Homo sapiens: one gene and its partner. The protein of the gene in region 1 interacts with the protein of each later gene in a biochemical or structural test. Each region holds a gene or a part of one and is shown in the gene's direction. Other genes may lie near its edges.

Region 1 (4,305 bases):
CCGGCTCCGTGCTCGGTCCCTTTCCCCCTGCCCCTCTGGCTGCCTCAGGCTCTCCAGCGTTGCTTCCAGGCAAGGCCCCAATGGCCTCCCTCCAGGGTCCTGCCTTGGGTCCCAGGCATGACTCAGCCACTTCCTGTTGCTCAGGCCTGATGTGCTGGGACAGCCACACTCTAGTGCCCTTTGTCTTAACTTCAGTGGGACACAGGAGTGGCTCAGGGAGGCCCCGGGGCTGTGCTGAGAGGTCCCACCAGCAGAGCTCCTGGCCGAGCGACCTTGTTGGACACGTGGCTGGCCATGCAGCCCACAGCGTCACCCCTGAGCCCTTGCATGTGTCCTGCGGCAGGCTGACCAGTGGCGGCGTTTGTGGAGGTCATGGCCTTGGAGCCAGAACTAGGACCTAGCAAGCCACTGACTCCACTTCCATTTTCTGTCCATAAAGAGGGGTTTGTTTCCATTAGAAGCTGCCGGATCCTGGAAGGACTCAGGAGCCCTTGGCCCACAGAGCAGGTGTGTCAGTGCCCCAGTGCTACCAGAACAAAGTACCACAAACCAGCGGGCTTAAAAGAAACATATCATTTTACAGAAGTCAGAAGTCTAAAGTCAGGGTCAGCAGGGCCCTCCGAAGGCTCTAGGGGAGGCTGCTTCCTCCCCTCTTCCAGCTTCTGGGGGCTCCAGGAGCTCCGGGGCCTGTGGGTGCCTCGCTCTGGTCTCTGCCGCGTCGCCCGTGATGTTCCCCCGTGTCTCTGTTCCTATCTCCCTCTTAGAAGAACACTCTCTCTATTCCAGGGTGACGTCATCTTAATTATATCTTTAATGACCGTATTTCCAAATAAGATCTCATCAGAGGCACCGGGAGTTAGGGGTTCATGTGTCATTTTTCGAGGGGCACAATTCAGTGCATGACAATTTGCCCCATGGTGGGCCCCTCCCACGTGCAAGTGACAGCCCCAGTGTCCCCAAAAGTCTTCACCATTTCAGCATCAACTCCAAGTCCAAAATCTCATCTAACTACCATCCACACAAAGTTCCACACACATCTCAGCCTGTAAATGCATCTTAACGAGGTCCAGGTGAGGCTGGAGTGTGCGCCATTCCTCTACGTAAATAGATCTAAACAAGGTACAGGTGAGGCTGGAGTGCGCGCCATTCCTCCAGCTGGGACGCCGTGAAATCAGCCAACAGATGATCTGTTTCAAAAGTTCAGCCGTAAGACAAGCATACACATTCCCACCCCAAAAGGGAAAACTGGGAGGAAAAAGGACAGCGAGTCCAAACCCAGCAGCCGAAATTCCACTTGACTTCCAGGCCTGCGAATCCTCTTTGGCCCCCTGCTCCGTCAGCCTTGGCCTCGGCGGCTCTGCTCTTGGAGCCTGCCTTCCTTTCACTCCAGCCTGGCAGCACTTCTGCGGGTGTAAAATTCTCACACCTTGTTGGCTTATGCAGCTCACCAGTGCCGAAGCCTTCAGACAGGCGGGTCCGCAGCCCTTTCCCGGAGGCCCCACCTGTCCCTGTCTGCTGCTGAGATGGTTAGTTGGATACACAGGTCACACCTCATGTCTAGCAAACCCTGGTCCAGCCACACCCTTGGCCACGTCTCAGAGCTGCCTGGATAGAGTATTTTTCAGATCCCCAAGGGCTGGTGCCTTTTTGCTTAATGGTCCCTGCCTCACTGATTGTTTCCCTCTTGCATTCTGCTATAAGTAGCAAGGAGAAGCCAGGTGGCACCTTCCACACTGCTTGGAAATCTCAGCTTGATGTCCAGGCTCATCAGCTGCAGGTCCCACTTCGCACCCAACAGCAGAGCAGCAGCCAGCCAAGCTCTCTGCTGCCTCCTCCGGTTCCCAGTAGCACGGTCATTTCCATCTGAGACCTCACTGGAAGCACCTGTTGGGTCGGCATTGCTGCCGACATCCAGTCTGTGATGCTGTGTGCATTCTCCAAGACGGCGGCAGCTCTCCTCTTCCAGCCATTTCCAGGCTTGTCTTCATGCCTTTCTACCAGCAGTCGTGCAGGCCTCACCAGTTCTTCCAGCCTCTCCCCATCACCCACTTCCAAAGCTGCTGCCACAGTTCTTGGTGTTAGGTTTTGGCAGCACCCCTCCTGGCCCTTCCTGGTACCAAAATCTGTTCGTTTACTGTGGCTGCTGTAACAAAGTGTCACAAACTGGGTGGCTTAAAAAACAGAAATAGATTGTCTTAGTTTTGGAGGCTGGAAGTCCAAGATGAAAGTACTGGCAGCCCCGTTCCCTCTGAACCCTCTTAGAGACCTCCGTTGCCCCCCAGCTTCTGGTGTTTGCCACAGCCCTTGGTGTTTCTTGGCTTGTGGCCGCGTTGCTCCAGGTGGTCTCTGTCTTCGTGTGGCCCCCTCCCCGCCTGCCTGTGTCTTCCTATCTTTCCTTTTCTTAGAAGGACCCCAGTCAGTTGGGTTAGGATGCACCTCAGTTACATCTGCATCAACCCTGTTTGCAAATATGGCCACATTTCCAAGCACTGGGGGTCAGGAGGCCCCTGTAGCCTTTTCGGGACACACCTTATGATGCTGGCCCCATTGCCCTTCCATGGTGGCTGAGCAGGTGGGGACCCCACCCAGTCCTGTGCTCTCGCTGCTCACCTGCCTGCCAGGGTGGGGTGGGGCAGGTGGCTCTGGGAGCCCCTTTCTCACTGGTACCAGGTGGCAGAGCCCACGGGCCTGAGCGCCCTGCAGCCGAGCTGCCCGTGCTGACCCTGGCCCTCCTTAGGCCATGCGGACCCTCAGTTGGAAGCACACCCTGGGCCTGGTGACCATGGACGTGGAGCTGGCCGACCGCACGCTGTCTGTGGCGGTCACCCCAGTACAGGCGGTGATCTTGCTGTATTTTCAGGACCAAGGTGAGCCCACCAGCCCCTAGCTGGCCTGCCCCGGCCACACGGCCCAGCTGTGGGTGAGGGGCTGTTCCCCAGTGAGGGTGTGGTTTGGGGCAGCTGCGCCAGCAGGCGGCACCCTTCCCTTTCCCACGGGCAAGGCAGGGTGGCCCGGGAGCCCCCCGACCTCTCGGCTGACGGGAGGCAGGGGAGGTGCAGCCCGTGCCCAGGCTGCCCAGCGTCCCGGTGACTCTGCACGCAGCCAGCTGGACCCTGGAGGAACTGAGCAAGGCGGTGAAGATGCCCGTGGCGCTGCTGCGGCGGCGGATGTCCGTGTGGCTGCAGCAGGGTGTGCTGCGTGAGGAGCCCCCCGGCACCTTCTCTGTCATTGAGGAGGAGCGGCCTCAGGACCGGGACAACATGGTGCTCATTGACAGTGACGACGAGAGCGACTCCGGCATGGCCTCCCAGGCCGACCAGAAGGAGGAGGAGCTGCTGGTGCGCGTGCAGGCCCCACGGGGGGCCAGGGGGCGGGGGCGAGGCCTGCAGGTGCCTGACGGGGGCTGGCCTGTGTCCGCAGCTCTTCTGGACGTACATCCAGGCCATGCTGACCAACCTGGAGAGCCTCTCACTGGATCGTATCTACAACATGCTCCGCATGTTTGTGGTGACTGGGCCTGCACTGGCCGAGATTGACCTGCAGGAGCTGCAGGGCTACCTGCAGAAGAAGGTGCGGGACCAGCAGCTCGTCTACTCGGCCGGCGTCTACCGCCTGCCCAAGAACTGCAGCTGACACATCGCCCGCCCGCCCGCCCGCCCGCCAGGCGCTGCCCTGCAGGTGCTCTCGTCCTCCCGTGCCAGCCCCCGCCCGCCCGTGTCCCAGAATGCACTGCTGAGGAGCATGCCCACCCCCACCCCCGCAGTGTGCAGATTAAAGCAAGTCAGATCATCCTTTTCTGTCCTGGTGGCTTTGTGGGGCCCCCCAGGATCCTCCTCTAGCCTGGGCCTCTCTCTCAGCCTGGCAGGGCCTGCTCCTCAGCAGCAGGTGAGGGGCCACCTAGGCCTACACATCTGCACTGGGAATGTAGCCTCCTGAGAGAATCCCGGGCCGCCCCCGACCCAGGGTGCTCAGGGAGCGGCACGTGAAGGTCCACGTCACGCCCGGGCCACGGCTCAGGCAGCCACGTCCTAGGGCTTAGTGCTTGCTACCCGCCAGACCTCCAGCTCCATTCCTGCGCCTCTGGCCTTTAGAAGGAGCCCTGGGGTCACCCTCTGCTCAGCCTGTGCCCACCTCCACACGCTCGGCCAGGAGGTCTCGGGCGAGGTTGGGACGTTGTGCGGGTTCGGTTGGAATTGCTGAGGCTGGCGAATGACCTCTAGGCCAACACGCCTCGTCTCTGGCAGTGAGGCTCTGCCGAAGGCTGTGCCCTGGTGGCCAGAGGGACTGGGCACTTGTCCCCTGCTC
Region 2 (7,808 bases), on another chromosome or scaffold:
GTACCTTTCACCATGTTTGTGAGGCCTCCCCAGCCACGTGGAACTGTTAAGTCCAACAAACTTACTTCTTTAGTAAATTGGCAGGTCTGGGCTATGTCTTCATTGGCAATGTGAAAACAGATTAATACAATGTCCTACTGCCCAAGCTTAAAATCCTCCAATGCAGTACCGTCCAAAAATTCAATACAGCACCATCTAAGAGAAATACAATGCTAGTCCCACATGTAATTTTATGTTTTCCAGTAGTCACATTAAAAAAGTAAAAATAAACAGGTAAAATTACTTTTACAAGATTTTATTTAATGTAATATATCCAACATATTATAATTGCAAATTTGAATTAGAAAAAAAACAACTCTGTCTTTAAAAGTTGATATGGGTTTTACACTTATTTAAACTAATCACATTTCCAGTCTCAATAACCACAAGTGGCTAATAACTATCATAACGAATAGTGACACCTGGGTGCGATGGTTCACACCTGTAATCCCAGCACTTTGGGAGGCCGAGGCGGGCGGATCACCTGAGGTAAGGAGTTTGAGACCAGCCTGGCCAACCTGGCGAAACCCCGTCGCTACTAAGCATATACAAAAAAATCAGCCAGGCGTGGTGGCGTGCACCTGTAATCCTAGCTACTCGGGAGGCTGAGACAGGAGAATCACCTGAACCCAGGAGGCCGATATTGCAGTGAGCTGATATTGCGTCACTGCACTCCAGCCTGGGCGACAGAGCTAGACTACGTCTCAAAAAAAAAAAAAAAAAAATGACGCTCCAAAGGATTTTATCATTCGTACTCTAAAAACTGACATCTTTTTAACACACCTACACGGTCCACCATGGTCTGGCACCTGCCTACCTTCCAGCCTCACCATTACAACTATCCCCGCTTCCTTCTCTACTAACTACATAGACCTTCTTGTAGTTCCTCTAGTTCCTCTAACAAACCGTGCTCCCTGTAGACACTGGGCCTTTACACAAGCTCTTTCCCAGTGGAAAGTGCTCAATGCCTGGGGGTCTACGATGCTTCTCAAAGGTGTTCTCTTCTATGTCTGACCTATAGAAAACCTCCACATATATTTGTGTAACATATAAACTGATGGCCTAAATATACTGCGAAGAGAAGCACAACAACGGTAAATTTAATCTTTATTAAAACAGCTACCATTTCTCGAGCCTACCGTGTATCACCTCATCTAATCTTCACAATAAGCCCAGTAGATAGGTCTGATGAACACCATTTTACAGTGAAGAAACAGGTTCTGAGAGGTAAGATCCTCAGCCAAGAACACATTGTAGTAAGAAATAAGGACTTCAAACACAACTCTGACTCCAAAGTCAGTTCTCTAAACCAGTATGTTATACTTGTCCACAGAACATTGGCTTCTGGGCCTAAAATATTAAAAACTAAAACTGAATAAAGTATTATAGTCACCAAGTTGTACGCACTAGTTTCCGTCGCTGTGGAGGGACCTATTTTCTCCAACTAAAAACAGTAATAGCTCCCACTTACTGAGGGCTTACGTAAGACACTGTTTAGCGCTTTACTTACATAGATGTTTTCATTTATACCCGCATGATACCCCACTGAAGTCGGATCATCTCGACTTAACAGGAAAAACTGAAGCTCAAGTAAATTTTTCTGGCGAGGAAATACAGTCTGTCAATTTGGGTACTGGAAGCAGCTTTCCCTGCTCGCAGTCCGGGGATTGCTCAAGGTCTTCGAGGCACCGCCACAAAGGCGACACTCTCATAGTTATCCCGACTGTTTCCCTGAAGACGCAGGCCTGGCCTGGCAGGGCACGAGTGCCATGAATGGGTCTCAGGACAGTGGCTTTTCGGTCCCCCGTCCTCGCTCCCTCAACACCTGAGGGCTCATCACCCCCGTGAAGATATATCCAATAATTAGGAGCCTTCGACTCATTTTCTCAGGTTCCCCAACTCCCCGTCGCCCGCAAGTTCTAACAATATTTTCTTACCCAGCCCCGCCGCAGCTAGCCCCAAGTCCATCCGACAGAATCCAAGCCAATCTCGTAATGTTTACTTCCGGCTTTTCGCCTAATTCCGGCGGCCACTGCGGTAACTTCCGGATGACCGGCACATGCGCACTAATTTCCTGGCGGGGCCGGGGGCGGAGGGGGGCCCTCCAGTGCTCCTGCGCCGTGGGAAACGCGAGAACTCTAGCTGCTGCGTATCGCGCTATTTACCCGGCTTGTGGGGAGTTTCAAGTTGGGCGGCTACTTTTTGGCTTCTATTTAGGAGCTTTCTTTTAGAATCGGAGAATTTTAGGAAGTTAAAAAAAAAAAAAAAAGACCAGAACAGACAAGAGCTTAAGCCTCACCAGGGGACTATGAAATGAATGGGGAAGTTGGTGACGTATCAGCTTAAAAAAAAAAAAAAAGCAGTTAAACTTGGCACTAATTAGTAGCCAGGCTGTGTAACATGCTGGGGATTTGGTGAACAGTGTCTTCCCTCAGATTTACATCAGAGTGCGAAAGACACCGAAACAACTATTCAGATTTAGCAGCTGTGAAAAGTTGCTATGAAAAGAATACCAGGTGCTGTGAGAACATAAGGCATGTTATCATTAGAAAAAAATACGACAATTTCCATTTTGGAGAAACAGTATCTATGCTATCCCATCCCTTCTTTAAAAGTATACATGTGAAATAAAACACTGGAAAATAAACTAATTTTCGTGGTAGAATTTCTTGTGATTTTTTTTTTTCTTTGTGCTTTCTATTCTGGTTGTTCTCCCCCTCCCCCCCATAACGTGTATCCTTTTTGAATGTAAAAGTAAAAGTAGCTACCATTCCTGCCTCAATAAAATAGCCCAACATAATAGAATCTATTTTTTTCGTATTAAGAATTTGCAATACCTGGAGTTTAGGAACATAAATATTAATTTTGCTTTTACAGGGCAGTAGATGAAGAAACAGTGTCAGAGACTAGCGTGAAAGTGAATAGAGTCTATGAATCACTCAGGCTTTGTTTTTTTCCACTTAAAAATATTCCTGAAATTTGCTTAGGAGTGTTAAGGCCTAATTAGCCAAAACCACCAGGAGAGCGCATCTCGAAGAGGAATCAGAAAGCGCAGGACAAGACAGTTGAATCTTTTCTAAGACTTGAGGTCCCTCTGGAGGGTTCTGAGGAAGGTCTAGGAAAGCCGGGATTGGTTCTGGATGGGTTGCTGTTTGTAAAGAAGGATTGGGAGAAACTGATTAGGGACTAAGTGCTGTTATGAGTGAGGGTGGTTTAGCAATTGAGTATTTCCAGTAATAGGAATAGCAAAGCTGGTCTGAGGGCATCATTAGTAAGAAAACAGTGGTTATTCAGAGAGGGTGGTTATGGTTTACAGCTGCTGCATGACCTTAGGAGAAACAATGCTTTCTGTTGGTGAAAAAAAGAAGACATCCTAAGACAAACCTTGCACCTCAAAACCTCTGTAGATAGAGAATCCCCACTTGGAAGCTATAGGTGTTGTGCAGATTTAGTCTTAAAAATTAACACTTTGAGTGCTGATAATATAATATGATGATGTAAAATTTAGGAGATACAGGAGGAAATAAAGGATGGGGATAAAGGAAAAAGAACAGTGAAGGGACAATAAAGGTATGCATATTTTTCTGTCTTTCCTCTTTTCTTCACCTTAAGTTAGGCTCTTTTCTTATAACCTAGTATAATGTCCAGCATTTAATAGGTATTCAATAAATATTTGTGAATGAATGAATCATTCAATCAATATTGGTCCTGAAATGCCAGGGAAAAAGAGATGATGAACTGGCATATATTGAGAACCATGTCTATGTCAGGTATAGTGTCAAGCCTTTCGTGAAAGAGTAATATGGAATCAACTCCTCTCTCTCAGCTGATCTGCAGCTTAAAATGCATATATGGTGAACTGTGGGAAGCGGAGTTTGAATGACACAGGTCAGCCTTATGTTTTAATTTATATCTTCATCTTGTAGTTGTTCAATGTATTCCATTTTACTATAGAAACAGGAAAAGGTCGTCAACTTTTTCAAGCAAAATTTCTTTTCATATCTGGGAAATTGGAATTCCTTTTTTATATCTTTATTATCTCTCTGATATTCTCTTGCTCCCTGGCCAAGCCCTTCCAGGCAACTTTGGTTAATATATTATTGAGATGTTAGAGGTTTAAAATAAATCACTATCAAAGGATAGAATTTTAAGGGAAGACTAAATTATGTATTCATTAGAATCATAATTTTGTTCCTAAGACAGATTCGTGATGGTATAATAGAAACAGTGTCTTAGCCTGAAGTATTGAGGATAGTCCTAAGATTAGGGAACGATCAGTTCGTTCTTAATCATAAGCATAAGAGAATGACTCAAACGCTGCTGTTTGATCTACCTGTACTTACATTTCTTCTTAATTTTAAATTCTTCTCTGCTAGTATTCTTTAGACCCAACATTGGTTGTTTCCCCTATTTCTTCAATATTTCTATTTATTTTCCATCCTTTTTACAGGGTCATCTAAATAAAAATATCTTAAAGCAATAAACCATTGTTATTGAGTCAGTACCTCAGTCCATGCAGCTTAATAATATGGAGAGCAAAAAAAAAAAGCCTCTCGATTTATTTTTTAATATTACACGATCCTAGTTTTTTCTTCCCAGAAAACGTGCCACAAAGTTTGCAAGAAAGAGCTTTTGGGGCGGAGCCCTGGCTGCTTAGGTCCTTTCCATTGGTTCTACTTGGTGACCACGCCCACGGCCCCGCCTCCTGGGCGGAAGAGCCAATTGGGCCGCGAGTTGTGGTTTAAACCAGGAGTGCGCCGCGTCCGTTCACCGCGGCCTCAGATGAATGCGGCTGTTAAGACCTGCGTGAGTGAATGGGAGGGTCGCGGGTGGTTAGTTGAGCCGGCTCCGGCGGGGAAGGAGGCGGGCTGCGGCTGCGGCTGGGGCTGAAGCTGGGGCTGGGGTTGGGGGACTGCCCGGGGCTTAGATGGCTCCGAGCCCGTTTGAGCGTGGTCTCGGACTGCTAACTGGACCAACGGCAACTGTCTGATGAGTGCCAGCCCCAAACCGCGCGCTGCTCGGGACCTTAGAGCCTCTGACTCAGGCTGGAAGATTTGAGAGCTGGATTAAGTACTTGTTGGCTCACGCCCGTGACTGTTCCGCTGTTTAGCTCTTGTTTTTTGTGTGGACACTCCTAGGATAGAAAGTTTGGTATGTTGCTATACCTTTGCTTCTCCCACCTTCCCCAATATCTAATATGTATTTCTCATTCTTAGAATAATCCAGAATGGCTACTCTGATCTATGTTGATAAGGAAAATGGAGAACCAGGCACCCGTGTGGTTGCTAAGGATGGGCTGAAGCTGGGGTCTGGACCTTGTAAGTATACAAGGCTGCAGTCGGATACACTGGTATTGTGGACGTGGCCTGGAGCTGGACGAGACATTTAGTGTACTTTTTGGGCAATTGGAGTCGTTTGTTATTGGTCCTTTTTCATTTTTAATATCTTAATGAGATGATTTAAGGAAGTTACTGAATCTCTGCTATTAGGCCTATCATAGCCATGCCACTACCAAAAGTGGGGGGTGGGTTTGGGGGTGAGAGGTCAAGTTTATATACACAGTATTTAAGTTGTACAGGTATTTTGCTGCTGGAATATTCTTATGGTAAGACTTTTTCTTCAGCAATCAAAGCCTTAGATGGGAGATCTCAAGTTTCAACACCACGTTTTGGCAAAACGTTCGATGCCCCACCAGCCTTACCTAAAGCTACTAGAAAGGCTTTGGGAACTGTCAACAGAGCTACAGAAAAGTCTGTAAAGACCAAGGGACCCCTCAAACAAAAACAGCCAAGCTTTTCTGCCAAAAAGGTAAGTGTTGGCTATAAAGACACTGTTTAAACACTTAAGCACTTTTGACTCTTAAAATGACTATTGGCATCATCCTACGTAGCTTTCTTCCCTCTGAGTAGAAGGGAAATAGAGGTTAGCAAGCAGAGTAGTGGAGGAGACTCAGATTGTCCTTGTGGACTTCTTGGTACCTTGAGATTGGAAATCTCAGATGCAGCTAATGCATATTTTTGCCTCATGCATATTTTTGCCTCACCTGTCCTTCACTAGTGTCGTGAAACTGGTTGGTGGTGTCTACTTACAGATACATACTGAGAGAGAGGGTGCCTTAAGAGAAACTGGTTGGTGGTATCCACTTACAGATACATACTGAGAGAGAGGGTGCCTTAAGAGGTTCTGTTGCTGCTTTAATAGCACAGGTGCTGCCATTCTCTTAGCCTTCCAGGGCAAGCAGCAGCTTGTTAGGTGACAATTTGCTAGCATGTTGATCTTCGTGTGAGTGTGAGTCACAAGCTACAGGTCTGTGTATCCCAGATGAGAGGACTTTGCTGTGAAAGATGACATTAGCATGTGGATTAACACTTTATTTGAATAACTGTTTTGTTTAATTTGCATTAGGAAACAACTAGTGAATTACATATAGTGCAACTTAGGACAAAGATGTCTTCTTTAAAAAGTGAATTAACTTAAAGAAAAATATTAAATACAGGAATTGCAAAGACATGGCAAAAACAATGAGACACAGAACCGAAGTGTGAGAACCCCATAGGGAATTCTAGGCATGCATATGTGAGGTGAGATAAAGCAGGAACATGCCGGCTTCCATTGTAGCACCCTTCTATAGTAGACTGTAGTAGACCTGTCAACTCCAGACTAGAAGATTGCCCATGGTGTTTATTCTAAAGTCCTTGACAGTGTCTTGCTGCCTCTTACTCAGTGTGTGTATTTGAGGAACACAAACTTGTTTTTAATATTAACCAAGCAAATAATTTAAGGTAACACTTGTGGAAAAAATCACACTCCTATAAGCCAAAAATGGCTTTGATGATTAGCTACTATCCTGGGTGATTCATGCCCATTTTCTCCTCTGTTAGGTTGAATAATTGCATTGATTAGCTCTGAATTAACTGCATTCTTGATCACTTATGCTGACAGGTGCTGGTACTTAAATTTCAGATTTTAACTTTTGAGTCATGCTACTCGAATTACATTTGAATCATATTATTTGAAGTATATTTAGGTGCAATTATGAAAACTAAGGATTATGGCTTCTTAGAAGGCAGCATGAAATTGACAAATTTAAAAACTAATCAGCTAATAAGACTTCCACTGTCACTAACCCATATTTTCTTTGGCTGTTCTAGATGACTGAGAAGACTGTTAAAGCAAAAAGCTCTGTTCCTGCCTCAGATGATGCCTATCCAGAAATAGAAAAATTCTTTCCCTTCAATCCTCTAGGTAGTATCTTTTGCAATTGCGAAAAGTGCTTTTGGCCTTTAGTTTCTTAGTATTCAGCTCAGCTGTAACTTGTTATGAATATAATATATGACCAAAAACTATGATGAGACTGTCTGAATCTGGGTTGCTTTGGACAAGTGTACTTGTTGATGGAATTATTTGCAAGGTATCATCTTAGGTCAGGAGGGGAATAGGAACAAAGATGTAGAAGACATTGTTCCTGTCTGTAAAAGCTTATCACCTAGAGGAGGTAAGATGTATTCATGAACATTGAATAAGTCCCATTGTGGACAGTCTTTCTCACAAGGCTTTTAGAAGTGAGCTTTATGTCAAGTTGAGCAATGCCTGAGAGTAATTTGGTAGGATTATTTCTTTGGTTTGAAAAATCTACATAAGACAGTGAAGACATGTTTTTCAAATTTCTTCAACCTGCTACATGTATCTGAAGTATTTTCTGTTTTGGAAACAGCTTTTCAAGCTTTAATTTACTCAACCATTTCAGGAGAAGCTACTGTGTGTCAGGC

What was found. Proteins that work in one complex are often made in the same cells at the same time.
Region 2: the proteins of ANAPC2 (region 1) and PTTG1 form a complex in vitro, tested with the Homo sapiens proteins (2 studies listed by BioGRID, with this or other methods).

Annotation. Positions count from the first base shown.
Region 1 is NC_000009.12:137,174,270-137,178,574, reverse strand, and holds the end of ANAPC2 (anaphase-promoting complex subunit 2), read left to right. Parts: intron 1-458; coding exon of another isoform or gene 459-507; intron 508-793; exon of another isoform or gene 794-2,737; coding exon 2,738-2,867; exon of another isoform or gene 2,868-3,059; coding exon of another isoform or gene 3,060-3,102; coding exon 3,103-3,338; exon of another isoform or gene 3,339-3,420; coding exon 3,421-3,633; 3' UTR 3,634-3,791; downstream 3,792-4,305. UniProt on the Homo sapiens protein: Together with the RING-H2 protein ANAPC11, constitutes the catalytic component of the anaphase promoting complex/cyclosome (APC/C), a cell cycle-regulated E3 ubiquitin ligase that controls progression through mitosis and the G1 phase of the cell cycle.
Region 2 is NC_000005.10:160,417,047-160,424,854, forward strand, and holds the start of PTTG1 (securin), read left to right. Parts: upstream 1-4,808; 5' UTR 4,809-4,845; intron 4,846-4,863; exon of another isoform or gene 4,864-5,255; 5' UTR 5,256-5,266; coding exon 5,267-5,357; intron 5,358-5,662; coding exon 5,663-5,847; intron 5,848-7,190; coding exon 7,191-7,284; intron 7,285-7,808. Other genes in the region: pre-mRNA-splicing factor SLU7, read right to left, coding at 1,977-2,007. UniProt on the Homo sapiens protein: Regulatory protein, which plays a central role in chromosome stability, in the p53/TP53 pathway, and DNA repair. Probably acts by blocking the action of key proteins.